Homo sapiens: one gene and its partner. The protein of the gene in region 2 interacts with the protein of the main gene of each other region in a pairwise test. Each region holds a gene or a part of one and is shown on either strand. Other genes may lie near its edges.

Region 1 (6,933 bases), on a different chromosome or scaffold from region 2:
GAGGCCGAGGTTGTAGTGAGCCGAGATCGTGCCACTGCACTCCAGCGTGGGCGACAGAGTGAGACTCCGTCTCAAAAAAATAATAGTAATAATATTAACTGGGCGCAGTGGCACGCGCCTGTCATCCCAGCTACTCGGAGGCTAGAACCTCAGAGCGCCCGCTTCACCTCCCATCTGGGCTGAGTCTACCTCCTGGATCTCGCTCCTTCCTGGTCTTGCTCATCATCCCTAAATTCCCTGTCCAGGGCATGATAACAGTCAGGCTTCCCTGGTTCAAATCCTGGCCGTGCCCTGCTTGGCAGCTGTGTGACCCTAGGCAAGTTACTCAACCTCTCTGGGCCTCATCTCTGACACAGGATGACAGCAGTCAAAGTGGGTTCATCTCAGATGGCTGTGAGGATTAGATGAGGTAATACACCTGAACCTGGGAGGCGGAGGTTGCAGTGAGCCGAGATCGTTCCACTGTGCTCCAGCCTGGGTGACAGAGCCAGATTCAGTCTCAAAAAAAAAAAAAAAAAAAAAAAAAAAGCAGTAGAGTAGCTGGAATGCAGGTGAGGAGGCTGGGGGGGCGGGGTGGGTGAGGGCTGGGCGCTGAGGAATTCACTGGATGGCTGGGAGGAGGGGAGGAGCAGCCTGGGACAGCCAAGGCTGGAGTGGTGAGGTTGGGGGGAGATGAGGAGGCCTGAGCTGGGGCTGTGGCAACCGAGAGGAAGAACCAGGGCAGAGAGTCAGGGGACAGGGGTGGGGGTTGGGGACTGACAGGCTGGGGGCGAGCAGAGGGGGAAGTCGGGGCCAGGAGAAGCCCTGTGGATCTGAGCCAGTGATGGGGAGGGGACATCCCTGAGATGGGCAACCTGGGAGGAGGTGCGAATCTGGGGGGGTACGTGGCGTATCTGAGGGGGTCTGGGAGGGGCACATCCCGAAGGAAGTGGGCCCCAGGGGGATGCTCCAGCAGGCTCGCTGGGGAGAGGCACGCTTCCAGGCCTGGGGGATTCCAGAAGTGCCTGGAAGTTTGAGGTCCTAAGGGCACCCCCCCAGGGCTCTGCAGCCATCAGGGCTGGAGGAGTCTTGCAGGGGAGGGCTATTCTCCCCCACGATGACGAAACCGAGCTTCGCAGAGGGTCAGTGACTAAACCAAGGTCACCCACTTAGCGAGGTCACTCAGGGCGTTTTATGACCAGCTGGCAGAGCCGTCGCGGAGATAAAAAAAAGGCTCCCAGGTGCCTGGCTGGGGTGGGGGTGAGGCCTTCCCAGAGGCGGGAACCCTGGAGGCGAGCTGGCTTATCTGTTTATCTCTGGAGAGAAGAATTGCAGAACTCAGAAGTCCTGGATTAGACAATGTTGAGTAAAGAATGCTGGGGCCTCCCTCACGCAGAACTGGGCCAGCCTGGTCACAGCTCTCAGCCCAGGAGGCCCAGAGACATCAGGAAGCTTGTCTAGGTCACACAGCAATCAGGATTGAACTGCTCCTGTCTCTGGAGTCCCAGGCACCCAGGAAGGCCTCTTCATGCCCCAGCTTCTGGCTGAGGGAGGGGAGGGGAGGGCCTGAAACAGTGGAATGAAATGAGGCGGCCAGGCGTGGTGGCCCACGCCTGTAATCCCAGCACTTTGGGAGGCCGAGGCAGGTGGATCACCTGAGGCAAGGAGTTCAAGAACAGCCTGGCCGACATGGTGAAACCCTTTCTCTACTAAAAATACAAAAATAAAATTAGCCGGGCATGGTGGCGGGCTCCTGTAATCCCAGTTACTTGGGAAGCTGAGGCTGGAGAATCACTTGAACCCAGGACGCGGAGGCTGCAGTGAGCTGATATCGTGCCATTGCACTCCAGCCTGGGCAACAAGAGCGAAACTCCATTTCAAAAAAATAAAATAAAATAAGAAAGGAATGAGGCAACTGGGCTGAGAACAGGTCTTGGTTGTCTCCCTCCTCACAGCCCACGGTGGCTGGAGGGGCCCAGGCTGCCAGGAAGGTCTCACTTGGCAAGAGTGCAAGATACGAGGGGTTGGAGATTGTCTCAGCAGTTTGCTGTGTGATCTGGGGCAGGCTGCCTGCCCTCTCTGGGCCTCTGCGCTCCCCTAAAAGATGGAGCCACGGGGAGGGGTGTAAAGGGGACATCACCAAGGCTGTGAGGAGCAGGAGAAACCACAGGCTCTGGCGTGAGACAGACCGGGTTCAGATTTGCTTCTAGCTGCGTAATTGCGGTCATGTCGCGTTCCCTCCCAGCCTCAGTTTCCCCATCTGGAAAGCAGGTACTGTCAAAGTGTCTGACTCATCCCCAGGAAGAGGGAGTCACGCTGAGCTCATGGAAGTGGGCAGTGCTCTGCCCTAACCACTGTTAGGAGACCTGAAGAGTCCAGAGCCTGCCCTCTCCGCCCCAAGTGCCCTAGAACACAGCTTCTCCCTCTGGGGGTCTCAGCAGCATCCCAGTCTCTCCCATTTCACCCCCAAGCACCCCCGTTATTTCAGGGCTTGCATGGGGTGTCCTGGGTACTACAGGCTGTTGTGTTTCCTGAGCAACTACTATGCACCAAGCTGCCTGCTCTCTTCCACTGCTCTATCAGGGAGACACAGGGCTTGTGGGCCCCTTTGACAGACAGAAAAACTGAGGCCCGGAGAGCGACAGGGACACCCCAGGCATCCCCACTGGTGACTCAACACGGTCGGGTCCTCACTCCCTTCTCAGGAGGGACCTATACACCACACTGGATGCCCCAGCCCAGCCCAGCCCCTCCAGCTAAGTCTGGGCCAGGCCTGCGGCTGCGGGTGGCTGGAGGCCACCCTTGCCACAGTCCCCGGCTCCCCCAAACAGCCACCTCCTCCCTGGGATCTCCTGGCTCCTGCCCAGGTCTGGGCCTCACCTGATTTCCGAGATGTCATCTTCATAGGTGTCCCACAAGCCCGGGATCTGGGGCTCGGCGGGCCCGTCCATGGCAGGTGGGTGAGGGTGGGGAGGGGAGGACGAGCAGGGAGCAGGCGGCACAGAGGCCAGGTGTGCGCAGCGACAGCGTCTGCCACCTGGGGAGCCCGCCAGGTGCCTACTCCGTGCCCGGCCCAAGGGGAGGGGCAGCACCCAGCCGGTTCTCCCAGCTGCTACCCACGCCTCCAACAGCGGGGAGAGGCCAGAGGGAGCCACCCTGCTCTGAGGGCGGGGAGGAGCAGTGATGGGCACGTCCTGGCGTCTGGTGCTCAGCTGGGGGCAGAGTCCAGGGGGTCAGTGCCAAGCCCACGCCAGAACCTTCCGGGCTGGCAGTTCTGGGCCTGTGGGCACCCACCTGGAGCCCACGTTGCTCATTTGGGAAATGGCGCTGATCTCGCCCATCTCAGCGAGTTCATTCATTCATTCATTCATTCACTCATTCATTCCTTTATTCATTTGAGAAATATTTACTGAGCATCTCCTGTCTGCCAGGCGCTGTTCCAAGCACTAGGCCACCGCTGGGGAAGGGGCAGACAGAAACTTGCCCTCACGGGCTGACGCGTAAGGGGCACCCTGGAAACAGACACAGGGACAGAGGCACAGCCAGGACCACGGCAGCACAGACAGGGCGGGAGCCAGGGAGAAAGGGAGAGGGCAGAGGGCATGGGAGACAGAGACCAGGAGGGGACTGAGATGCACAGGGGCCAGAGACCTTGAGAGACGCAACAGAGATACACGGAGGGCGGAGACAGAGACACACGGACACCCAGAGGAGACAGAGACACACAGGGGTCAGAGACCCTGAGAGACCCAGCAGCGATATACAGAGGGCAGAGACAGAGATACATAGAAAGGTCAGGGACAGGGAGAGACACAGATATGAGAGACAACTGCCAGATATGGTTGGGCGTGAGAGTCTGAAGGTCACAGCCCTGGTTCAAATCCCAGCTCCAGTGCCTCCCAGCTGTGGGGCCGGGAACCATCTTGCTCATAGGCTCATCTTGCCTTAGTTTCCCCATCTGTGAATGGCACCCATCGGGCTGTTGTGAGGACTGAGGGAGACACTCTCAGCTGCTGGTGGAGGATCTGGTACACAGTGAGCTCAGCATAGACGGTGTTCTCTTCTCTTCTGCCCCCACCCCAAACCCTGGCCCTCCCCAGCTGTTGGTCCCTGACCCCTCAGAGTCCTGGAGTCATGAAGCCAGTCTCCCCACCAGTGGTGGCAGGTGCCTGTAATCCCAGCTACTTGGGAGGCTGAGACACGAGAATCGCTTGAACCTGGGAGGTGGAGGTTGGAGTGAGCTGAGATCACATCACTGCACTGCAGCCTGGGCGACAGAGAGAGACTCCATCTCAAAAAAAAAAAAAAAATGCCAAAAGAAAGCCTGTGCAATGGCTCACGCCTGTAATTCCAGCACTTTGGGAGGCCGAGGCGGGTGAATCGCCTGAGGTCAGGAGTTCAAGACCAGCCTGGCCAACATAGTGAAACCCCATCTCTACTAAAAATACAAAAAATTAGCTGGGCATGGTGGCAGGTGCCTGTAATCCCAGCTATTCGGGAGGCTGAGGCAGGAGAATCACTTGAACCCTGGAGGCAGAGGTTGCAGCGAGCCAAGATTGTACTGTTGCACTCCAGCCTGGGCAACAAGAGTGAAACTCCATCTCAAAAAGAAAAAAAAAAAAAGCCAAAACAAATAAAATTGTATATACTGACCAATTATTGTTGCATAGGTGAGGGGGATGGAAGACGTCAGACTCACCTAACAGATGCAGGAAGGGGGCCCAGAGAGGTAATGTGGCTTCCCCCAGGGCACACAGCACTGCCCGCCTTCACTCTGATGGTAAGCAGAAAAGGAGGGTTCTGGGGTATCCCATCTCTCAATTCACCACCCCAAGACCCGTCTCCAGGAGGCTGAGCTGTGGGAGCACCCGCCCCTGCCCCCAGCCACTACCGAGTCCACATCCTCAACATTCTGCCTTGATACTTTCAGTGTTAAGCCTTGATGTTCCTGCTGATAAAAAGGCTCTCTTGCAGGGTGGGTGGAAGGGTGAGAGGGCCAGGCATCCCCCTCTGAGGCTGAGTGAACCCCTCTGATGTCGGAGGTGGGGGACTGAACCATGACACCCCACCAGGCCTCCGGCTGGGCTGTCTTCACCTTTGTTTTCTATTCAATGACCCTTTGTCCCTGGCTCTGTGTGCTGCTGGGGTGGGGGGTTAGGGAGAGTCTGGGGAAGGGAATGCCCAGGTCCTTAGGGATCCTGAGAGGGAAACTCGCAGGCAGGTGCGGAGGCATCCCCGGGGCACAGGAAGGTTGGGGAGCAGTAGGGCCTGAGGTTGTGCCTGAGTGGGCAATGGAAAGAAACTGGCCAAACTAGGCGGCCTAAGACCCAGGGGAGGCTCCTACTGCAGGGCCTTTGCCCTTGCTATTCCCGCATGTTCCTGATACCTGGGAGCTTCGTGGGCTCCTATCGTCTGACTCTGCCCAGTGTCACCTCCCCCAGGCTCGTCCACCAACTTCTCCATTCCTCTTTCCTGTTTTACTTTTTCCCATAGCACTCGTCACCATCTGACCTCCTAAATGTTTTGCTTCTTTGTCTTGTTTACCATCTATCTCCCCACTAGACTGTCAACCCCATGAAAGAAGGGCTTGTTCTATGTCAAATCTGCGGTTATTTCCCAAGGGAAGAGCCTGGAATATAGTAAATGCTCAATAAGTGCCTGTTGATGGAATGAATGAATTGTCACAGGAAGACGTGATGGAATGAGTGAAGGTCATGGTGGTGCCAGGAGAAGTCCACTGAATCTCTGTGGAGAATGAGGAGGGAGCTGAGGAGATGCAAAAGCCTGATTCTGGAAGGCGAGGGGTCCAGACTCCTACAGAGGTGGCAAGGAGGAACCAGAAGACACCAGAGTGACATTTTAGCCAATTGTGAGAGTGCAGAGATACTAGTGGAGACCATCAACCCCCAGAAATGAATCTGAGGGTCTTGGACATCTGGGAGACAAGGACGAGACCAGAAGGATGAAGGAGTGGGCTGGGCTTGGTGGCTCATGCCTGTAATCCCAGCACTTTGGGAGGCCCAGGCGGGTGGATCACGAGGTCGGGAGTTCAAGACCAGCCTGGCCAACATAGTAAAACCCCGTCTCTACTAAAAATACAAAAATTAGCCGGGAGTGGTGGTGGGTGCCTATAATCCCAGCTCCTCAGGAGGCTGAGGCAGAGAATTGCTTGAACCCAGGAGGTGGAGATTGCAGTGAGCCGAGATTGTGCCACTGTGCTCCAGCCTGGGCAACAGAGCAAGACTCGGTCTCAATTAAAAAAAAAAAAAAAAAAAGATGAAGAGTGTGGGAAAATGCAAGTGGAAAACCCAGAGCCACTTGGTCATGGGTAGTGAGAGGAGCAAGGATTATACATCCATTCATCCCTCCAGCTGTTCATCCCTCTATCTATGCATCCACCTGTCCCTCTATTCATCCATCATCCATCCACCCGACCATCCACCCAACCATTCATTCAGCCACCCAACCACTTATCCAATCATCCATTCAACATCCATCTATCTACCCATCCAACCATCCATCCCTCCATCCATTCATCAGCCATCAAACCATCCACCTCTTCATCCATTCATCATCTATCCATCCATTCATCCATCCAACCATCTACTCAACCATCCATCTATCCAGCCATCCATCACCCATCCATCCATTTTCCATCCATTCATCTAGCCACCCAACCATCCAACCATCCATCTATCCATCCATCCTGCATTCATTCAGCCATTTATTCATCCATCACCCAACCATTCCTTCATCTATCCATTCATCCATCCATCCTGCCATCCATTCATCACTGTCTATCCATTCATCCATCCAAGCATCTACTCAACCATCCTTCTATCCATCCATCCATCCTCTATTCATCCACTCAGCCAGGTATCCATTCAACCAGCCATCTATGCATCCATCTTTCTATGCATCCTCCATCCATTCATCCATCCATCCAACCATCTA
Region 2 (7,622 bases):
CATCAGCCTGGGCAACATAGGGAGACCCTGTCTCTACAAAAAAATTTTAAAAATAGCCAGGCAGGGTGGCATGCACCTGCAGTCCCAGCTACAAGGGAGGCTGTGGTGGGCAACAGAGTGAGACCCTGTCTCAAAAACAATCAATCAAAAATAATAGGATTGGGGTGAACAGGCCCTGAGGAACTGGTCCCTCAGTCACCCAAGGTATGGGGGGCTGACCACTCTTCCATCACAGAGGGGCCAGAAGGACCCTCGGTCTGACTGCACACTCTAGCGTAGCCCCAGAAATAGGTTCCCACCTGAGTGTGTGTGTGTGTGTGTGAGCATTAGTGTGCACCCACTGGACAGCAAGAGTGGAGGGCTGGCCTCTGGTCACCTGCTCCGGCTTAAGGCCTGGGGGCACCCAGGCATACTCCTCCGATGCACAGCCTGAGTCGTCGTCGGAGATGGAGTGGCGCTGGAAGTCCGAGATTAGCCGACACATGATGCGTTCCAGGTCCACAGGCACCGCGTGCACTGCATGCTCCTCCCGCGGGCATTTGCAATGCTGGCAGATCTTTCTGAGGGGGCCGGGATGGGGGTCAATTACTAAGGAGTTGCCCACCCGAACCCCTCGGCAGCCCAGGTCCAATGGAGGAGCGGGGACATACAGATTATCACCACCAAAGGTCTGTGAGCAGGGACAGGGATCTGGGCCTGGGGGCAGGGCTGCAGGAGGTGGGCCTATGAGCCAGGGTGTGGCTGGGCTGTGAGCCAGAGGACAGGTCGTGGGGAGTGGGATGCTTTGTGGGGGAACTTTCACTAGACACAGGCATCTAACCTGTGGTGAGGCTCTGAACTTGTGGGCTCTGAGCCTGTGGGTAGGGCCTGAGTCTGGGGGCTGTAGGCTCTGTTTATTGGGTGCAGGGCTCCAGCAGGAGGATAGGACGCTGGGCCTGGGAGAGTAGGTCTGAGTCTAAGAGGGGTGCTGGAGGCCAGAGGGCGGCGCTCAGAGTTAGAGACGAAGAATCTCCCTAGGGATGCGACTCCGCGGCTACGGGAGAACACTTCTGGGGGCGGGGCTGCGTAGTGGGTGGAGCTCTCCTGGGAAAGGACTTTGGGGAATGAGTCAGGGGGCGGGGCTCTGAATCTGAGCCTGAGGCTCTTTTCCCAACTGAGATCCCTCTGTAGGCGGAGCTCAAGCGTAGGGGCGTGGCGTAAGGCTCCTGGATTTCCCCCCGAAGGCGGAGCTCTGACAAAGGCGAGGCCCTTTAGGGGCGCCACTTACCTCCAGCCGTGGAGCAGGAAGCCAGGGCACTGCTCCCTACAGGAGTTGCAGGGCTGGCCCCGGTCTGGGTCCTCTGCCTCTGGAGGCTGCAGTGGGCGGGGGCAGATGCAGGGCCGGGTGAGGCGCGGAAGCAGGGAAGGAGAAGTCAACGCCCGCCCCTCCACTTCATTGCCCGCGACCGCACGCTGGGGCCTGTCTTACCTGGGCAGCGCTGGGCAGGCTGGGACAGCGCCCAGAGTGCGGGGGAGCGGGACACAACCGAGGCAGAGGCGGGGCAGTTGGAGCCACCTCCTTATATGTCCCCTTTTCAGGGAATTCCCCTTCCTAGGCTGGCCTCGGACCCCCCTCCCCGTCCGCCCCTAGCCTCAGACACCTCCCACCAGCCTTAGATCCTTCCAGGGCTCAAGCACCTCCCCTATAATTCATTGTACTCTCCCCACTAGAGCACAGAACCCCTACTCTGGGCATCCTCTCCCCGGCCTCATCCCGGTTCCCTCTCCATCTACGCCGCCAGCAGCACTCCAGTTCCACAGGGTAGGAGACGAGACCGCATTCTTCCTTGAGATCCCCACGTGAACCCTGCCCCTCTCTTCAGAAGCTCAGGAGCTCCTCCCCTAAACCCTGGCCTCATGCCCTGATACCCAAGGAACTGGGGACCCTCCCCAGGATCTCAGGAGGCCCCTGCTCCATTCAGAAACCCCCATCCCAAGAAACCTTGGCCTTTACCCATCCCATCCTAGGGCTATTTATTCCTTCTCCGGACCATCAAACCCAGACCCCACATTCCCAGGTCAGAGACCCACTCCAAAGGAAGTGAAAGAACCTCCTATCTAAGAAGTCAAAAACTCCCTTGCTCAGGCGGAACCCTGGAAGCCTTGTCCCCCCAAATCCCAGTCTCTTGACTCTCAGCATTTCGGCATCCCAGGAGTGTAGGACTCCATCCCTCCGTGCACATTCCTCCAAGGTACTGTGTCCTTTAGAAGCTGAGGAGGTCGGCCAGGCTCGGTGGCTCACGCCTATAATCCCAGCACTTTGGGAGGCCGAGGTGGGCGGATCACCTGAGGTCAGGAGTTCGAGACCAGCCTGGCCAACATGGTGAAACCTTGTCTCTACTAAAAATACAAAAATTAGGCGGGCGCGGTGGCGGGCGTCTGTAATCCCAGGTACATGGGAGGCTGAAGCAGGAGAATCGCTTGAACCCAGGAGGCGGAGGTTGCAGTGAGCGGAGATAGCGCCACTGCACTCCAGCCTGGGTGACAGAGATTCAGTCTCAAAAAAAAAAAAAAAAAAAAAAAGCAGCAGCTCAGGAGGTTCCTGCTCAACCTAAGGCTTCAAGACCCAGTTCTCTGGCCCTCAGGATTCCCTCCCACAATTCATAAGAGAGGGGTCCCCACCAGGTCCCAGGAGTGCTGATGAAAGTGTGTGGAGAGGTGATTAGGGGGTTTGGGCCACCAGATCTACACCTTCCTCCATCCATTCGCCTCCAGCAGCCCCAGCCCCAGGTCTGGGAATGCAGGGGATGGGATTCCCAGATCCTCTGTGGGGCACCTATTCGCTATGCCTATCCATTGCCCCCTTGCCTGGGCCTCAGTTTACCCCCGACCCCCACCGCTGCCCTGACTCCCGCTCACCGCACGCCCGGAGCGGCGCCTCCGGGACCCACGCGCGAACATGGCGCGCCCGGGCAGGGTCAAGCCGGGCCGGGTCAGGCGAATGTAATCCTTGCGACCGTCAGGCCACCGCGCGTCCGGCCTGGGAACTCGGTTCCGTAAACCTGACACCCTCGTGGGAGGAGCGCGCCCCGCAGGGCCCGCCCCCGGGCATGTGGTCTCTCCGCTGCCAGGGCGCCCCCTGCCTAGAGGTGAACTGCACGTAGCCCGGAGTGCCCCGCGGGAAAGGCCTCTGCCCTCCCGCTCCGGGCCGGTGCGGGGCGTCACAAGGCACGACCCCCAGAATCCCGGCGTGCCACGTGGCCTCTCACGGGACCTGGGGCTTGAAGGTTCTGTAGTGGAGGATGGGGAGACTCAGAGGTGGCCAACTGGACTGAGAGGGGTGGCGCGCTAGGGTGCTTGTGTTGACGTTTTGTGTCGATTTATTTCGGATGCTTATTTGGGAGAGGGGTTAAAGACACCTCTTGGCTCCTCCCCACTGGTGAGGTTCCGAGGGTCTCCCCGATGAATGCTGCAACAATGGGCCCCAACCTCACCCGCAGCCCCAGCTGGTGCTCGCTGGGAACCTGGGAACCTGGCCCTAGCCACCAGAGAGCTAGATCTTATACGCACTCCTCCCTTCTCATTCCCCTCTCAGCGAGGCCAGGTTCCAAAGCCCTCGTCCCCTCTCTCCCCTCATCCTTATAAGCCTAGCTGTCCAGCCCCGTCCCCCCACCCCAAGTCTTGAGAAGTAGATCTTAAAGCCTTCCCTCCCCCACCCACATTTTTCTCTCTCCAGTTATCCCCTTCCCCAGCTCAGTTCCAGGGCGGGGAGCCTCTCCTTCACGCTCTCAGGCTTGGCTGTGCCTCCGGGCTGGGGGGAGGGGGTCCCATGGCCTCAGTCAGAACTCGGCCCGGGTCTCTATGCACGGAGACTGCAGCGGCCAGGCCCTTCATCGCGGGCCCCGGGGACCTCTCCCCGCCCCCCATTACACATGTCCCTGTCACTTCCCGTGGAGTGGAGAGGTAAAAGAGAATAACTAATGAACTAAGGAGTCACCCCGGCGCCCCACCTCCCCTCCTTGCCTAACCTGTCTCCCATTTCTCCAGCCTGGGCGGAGGCAGGGAAAGGAGAGACAGTAGGGTCTGAAGATTAGGGATGGGGTCAGGCAATGTGAGGTTTCCTCCTATTCGGACCCCTTGGGGATTTGAGGAGAGGGTTCCACAGGGGCTCGGAAGAGGCTTGGCTAAGGGACCAGAATTAGAACCAACTCCTAGAAAGACCGGGCATTTGGTGGCCAGTAGTGGGAGGGTGAGCAGGGCTACTCAGAGAGTGACAGAGTGATTGGCAGGAGAGGCTTCCCAGAGGATGCTGCTCTGCCTAACACTTTTGAAGGGGCCTGAAATGGTGCAGCAAGCTGAACTGCGGTCGGTGGGTCCGGGTGGAGCTTGTTCTCACCACCTCTCCCTCCTTTCTCCCCCGGCCAACCTCCTCCCCGGCGCCCGAAAAAGACACACTGAGAAATCAGAGCCGGGTAGACTAGGTGGTTAAGGAGTTTATTTGGGAGAGGAGAATCATATTTGTTCTTCCTTGGGGAGGGGGGTTCTTTGAACAATACCGAAGGGTTTGGGAAAGGGTAGGGGTCTGGAGGGGAGAAGGAGGGGCCACAGCCAGACAAAATGGCAACACACGATCACAGGCACTACTGACATCACAGACATAGCAGAGGGTGCAGGATAGGGGCTCCAGACCAGGCCTCCAACCACCCCAGGACGGGTGGAGGTGTGGAGGGAGGGAGGGCGCAGGGGAAGGGGGAAGAGGGGTGGGCCAGTCCCACAGACCCGTTGGTTCTGTCCTCCTATTAACCTAGCTGTTTCATCACGGGAGTGGGGAAGGGTGTGTGTGGTGGGGTGCTTCTCTCTGGATCCCACGCCTCACCCTACAAGCCATATCACTCGACTCTTCTCAGGCCACTTCCGTCCCAAGTCGTAGCCAGAGCCATTCTCCCCCACCCCTAACAAAACCCATCTGGAAGCTCCTATCCAAGTCCCCTCTCCACTGCCCAAACCCAGCCATTGTAAAACATTTTCTTCACTGCACCATGGGGAGGGGCTGCCCTTTCTGAAACCACCATGGAAGCCCCATTCTAAGCCCCACCCTGTCTGGAACCCTGGCTTGGCCCATTCCTGAATCCCACTTCTTGCCTTGCTCAAGATCTGTCCCCTTTAGAATCAAGCTCAGTCTCCCAAATGTTCCAAGCCACACCCTTTCCATAGGCTCTGGTACCAATCCAAGACCCACCTACTCTGGAGCCCACCATTCTGCCTCGCTTAAAGCCTCGCCCCTTCTAGAACCCTGCCCTCAGCGCCCTTCCAAGCCCCACCCCAGAATGCTCTAGCGCACTCCTCTCCTTCAGACTCCAGATCCACTCTGTCTGGAACCCAACCCCCCTGCTGACCCCTCCACTCCACACCTCCTCTCCAAGACCACCTTGGGTCCTAAACTGTCCTCTCTACCCCAAGCCCCCCCAATCTCTGCCTTTCTTTAACCCTGGAGTTGGATTTCCCTAACGGCCTTTGTTCAGGCAGGCATTGCTGGAGGAACCAAGGCCAGAGTTGGGAGGAGTGGAGGGAGAGAGAGGAGAGAGTCTGAAGTCACGCCCACCCTCCCCACACAGCCGAGGTCTGTTCCCTCCCTGTCCTCCTTTTAGATCCCCTTAACCTCAGGGGACAGGGAGGGTAAACAGAGAGGGGCCAAGGGATGCAGGGAAAGGGACGGGGTAAGAGAGGGGGCCCACTCAAGACTGGGCACCTAGTGGATGAGGGGAGTGGAGTGAGGGCAGGGCTCAGACAGATAAATAGATATTTATATATAATATATATATATATAAACAGCAAAGACAGGGTCTCCTGGCTTGAGGGGTGGAGACCTAGGGTATAGGGGTGGGAAGGGGGGCAGGCCTTCTCCTGAGCTCTTGCCCCCCCCAGGTCCTCCTGGGCTTCACTGACCTGTAGAGACAAAAGACACAGAAAGGAGAGGGGGTCTGACATGGGTGGCGCCCTCAGATAGGGGTTGGGCTGTTATGCCTTTGTCCTGGCTTTATGTCTTTTCTTCTTTCCTGGAGCCAGCTTCATCCCAGCTGCCTCTGCTGAGAAGATATACCTGACCTTGCCCCCACTGGGTTAGGTACCAAAGAGATTACAGTCTCCTTCCTCCAACCAAAAAAATAGTCCCTTAACAGGTACTGTTCTAGCCATTTGTGATAAACTATATTGAGCAAAACAAAGATCCCTGTCTTTGTGGAGCTTATACTGAAGCAGAGATAGACTTCACACAGCGAACATGATGCATGAGTGGATTATCTCGTATAACATAGGGTGACAATAATAAGTGAAATGGAAAAAATAAAGTGAGCTGGGCATGGTCGCTCACACTTATAGTCTCAGCTACTTGGGAGGCTGAGGTGGGAGGATCACCTGAGCCCAGGAGTTCAAGTCTAGCATTCCTAAAGTGCTAGGATTACAGGCGTGAGCTACCACGCCCAGCCTGCGACAGGGCAGAGTTCTGACACAGGAGGACTGTGGCCTAATTTAGGATTTAACAGAATCCCTCCAGATGCTGTGAGTAGAACAGAATGGAAATGGAGACCTGAGAAGAGGTCTGGGAGAGATGACAGTGGAAGATGAAGGATATATTTTTTGAAGGTAGGACCCACAGGATTTTTTGATGAATTAGATGTGGGATGCCCTTTCCATCCTGGCTAACCCAGTGTCAGAAGCTACCTCCATCCAAGTATTGCCACCTTCTTGCCTTCCCCCACTTTTTAGCCACCCCTTAGCCTTTTCCTCCTGCCTTTCCTCCCCTATATCCTCCCTCCTATCTGAGGGAAATCTCACTTCTCTTTTTCTTTTTTTTTTTGTTTTGAGACAGAGTCTCGCTCTGTTGCCCAGGCTGGAGTGCAGTGGCGCAATCTCGACTCACTGGAACCTCCGCCTCCCAGATTCAAGCGATTCTCCTGCCTCAGCCTCCAGAGTAGCTGGAACTACAGACGTGCGCCACCATGCCCGGCTAATTTTTATATGTTTAGTAGAGACGGGGTTTCACCGTGTTGGCCAGGCTAGTCTCGAACTCCTGACCTCAGGTGATCTGCCCACCTTGGTCTCCCAAAGTGCTGGGATTACAGGCATGAGCCACCTCACCTGGCCTCTTTTCTTTCTTTCTTTTTTTCTTCCTTTCTTTCTTTCCATTTTTTTTTTTTTTTTGAGACAAGGTCTCGCTCTGTTGCCCAGGCTGGAGTGCAGTGGCAGGATCATAGCTCACGGCAGCCTCAACCTCCTGGGCTTAAGTGATCCTCCCACTTCAGCCTCCTGAGTAGATGGGTCCACAGATGCATGCCACCACGCCCGGCTAATTTTTGTATTTTTTGTAGAGGTGGGATTTCATCATGTTGCCCAGGCTGGTCTCGAACTCTTGGGCTCAAGCGGCCCGCCCGCCTCGGTCTCCCAAAGTGCTGAGATTACAGGCATGAGCCACCAAGCCCCGACCCTCACTTCTCTTTTAAGGCCCAGCAAGAAGGCCGGCAAACCTTTCCAGGACCCCACCCTATCCCTCTTCCTCCTTTGAAATTCCACACTACTTCCCTCCCCTCCAGCGTTGGGGAGAGGCGGCAGATCTATCCCCTCCTCCCGGATTGGTGAGCTCGTCT

What was found.
Region 1: the proteins of PRICKLE3 (region 2) and SULT2B1 interact in binary tests that used the Homo sapiens proteins (3 or more experiments, as listed by UniProt).

Annotation. Positions count from the first base shown.
Region 1 is NC_000019.10:48,548,250-48,555,182, reverse strand, and holds the start of SULT2B1 (sulfotransferase 2B1), read right to left. Parts: upstream 3,012-6,933; 5' UTR 2,931-3,011; coding exon 2,860-2,930; intron 1-2,859. UniProt on the Homo sapiens protein: Sulfotransferase that utilizes 3'-phospho-5'-adenylyl sulfate (PAPS) as sulfonate donor to catalyze the sulfate conjugation. Responsible for the sulfation of cholesterol.
Region 2 is NC_000023.11:49,183,358-49,190,979, forward strand, and holds the start of PRICKLE3 (prickle planar cell polarity protein 3), read right to left. Parts: upstream 3,017-7,622; 5' UTR 2,941-3,016; coding exon 2,899-2,940; intron 1,537-2,898; exon of another isoform or gene 1,469-1,536; intron 1,354-1,468; coding exon 1,268-1,353; intron 561-1,267; coding exon 377-560; intron 1-376. UniProt on the Homo sapiens protein: Involved in the planar cell polarity (PCP) pathway that is essential for the polarization of epithelial cells during morphogenetic processes, including gastrulation and neurulation.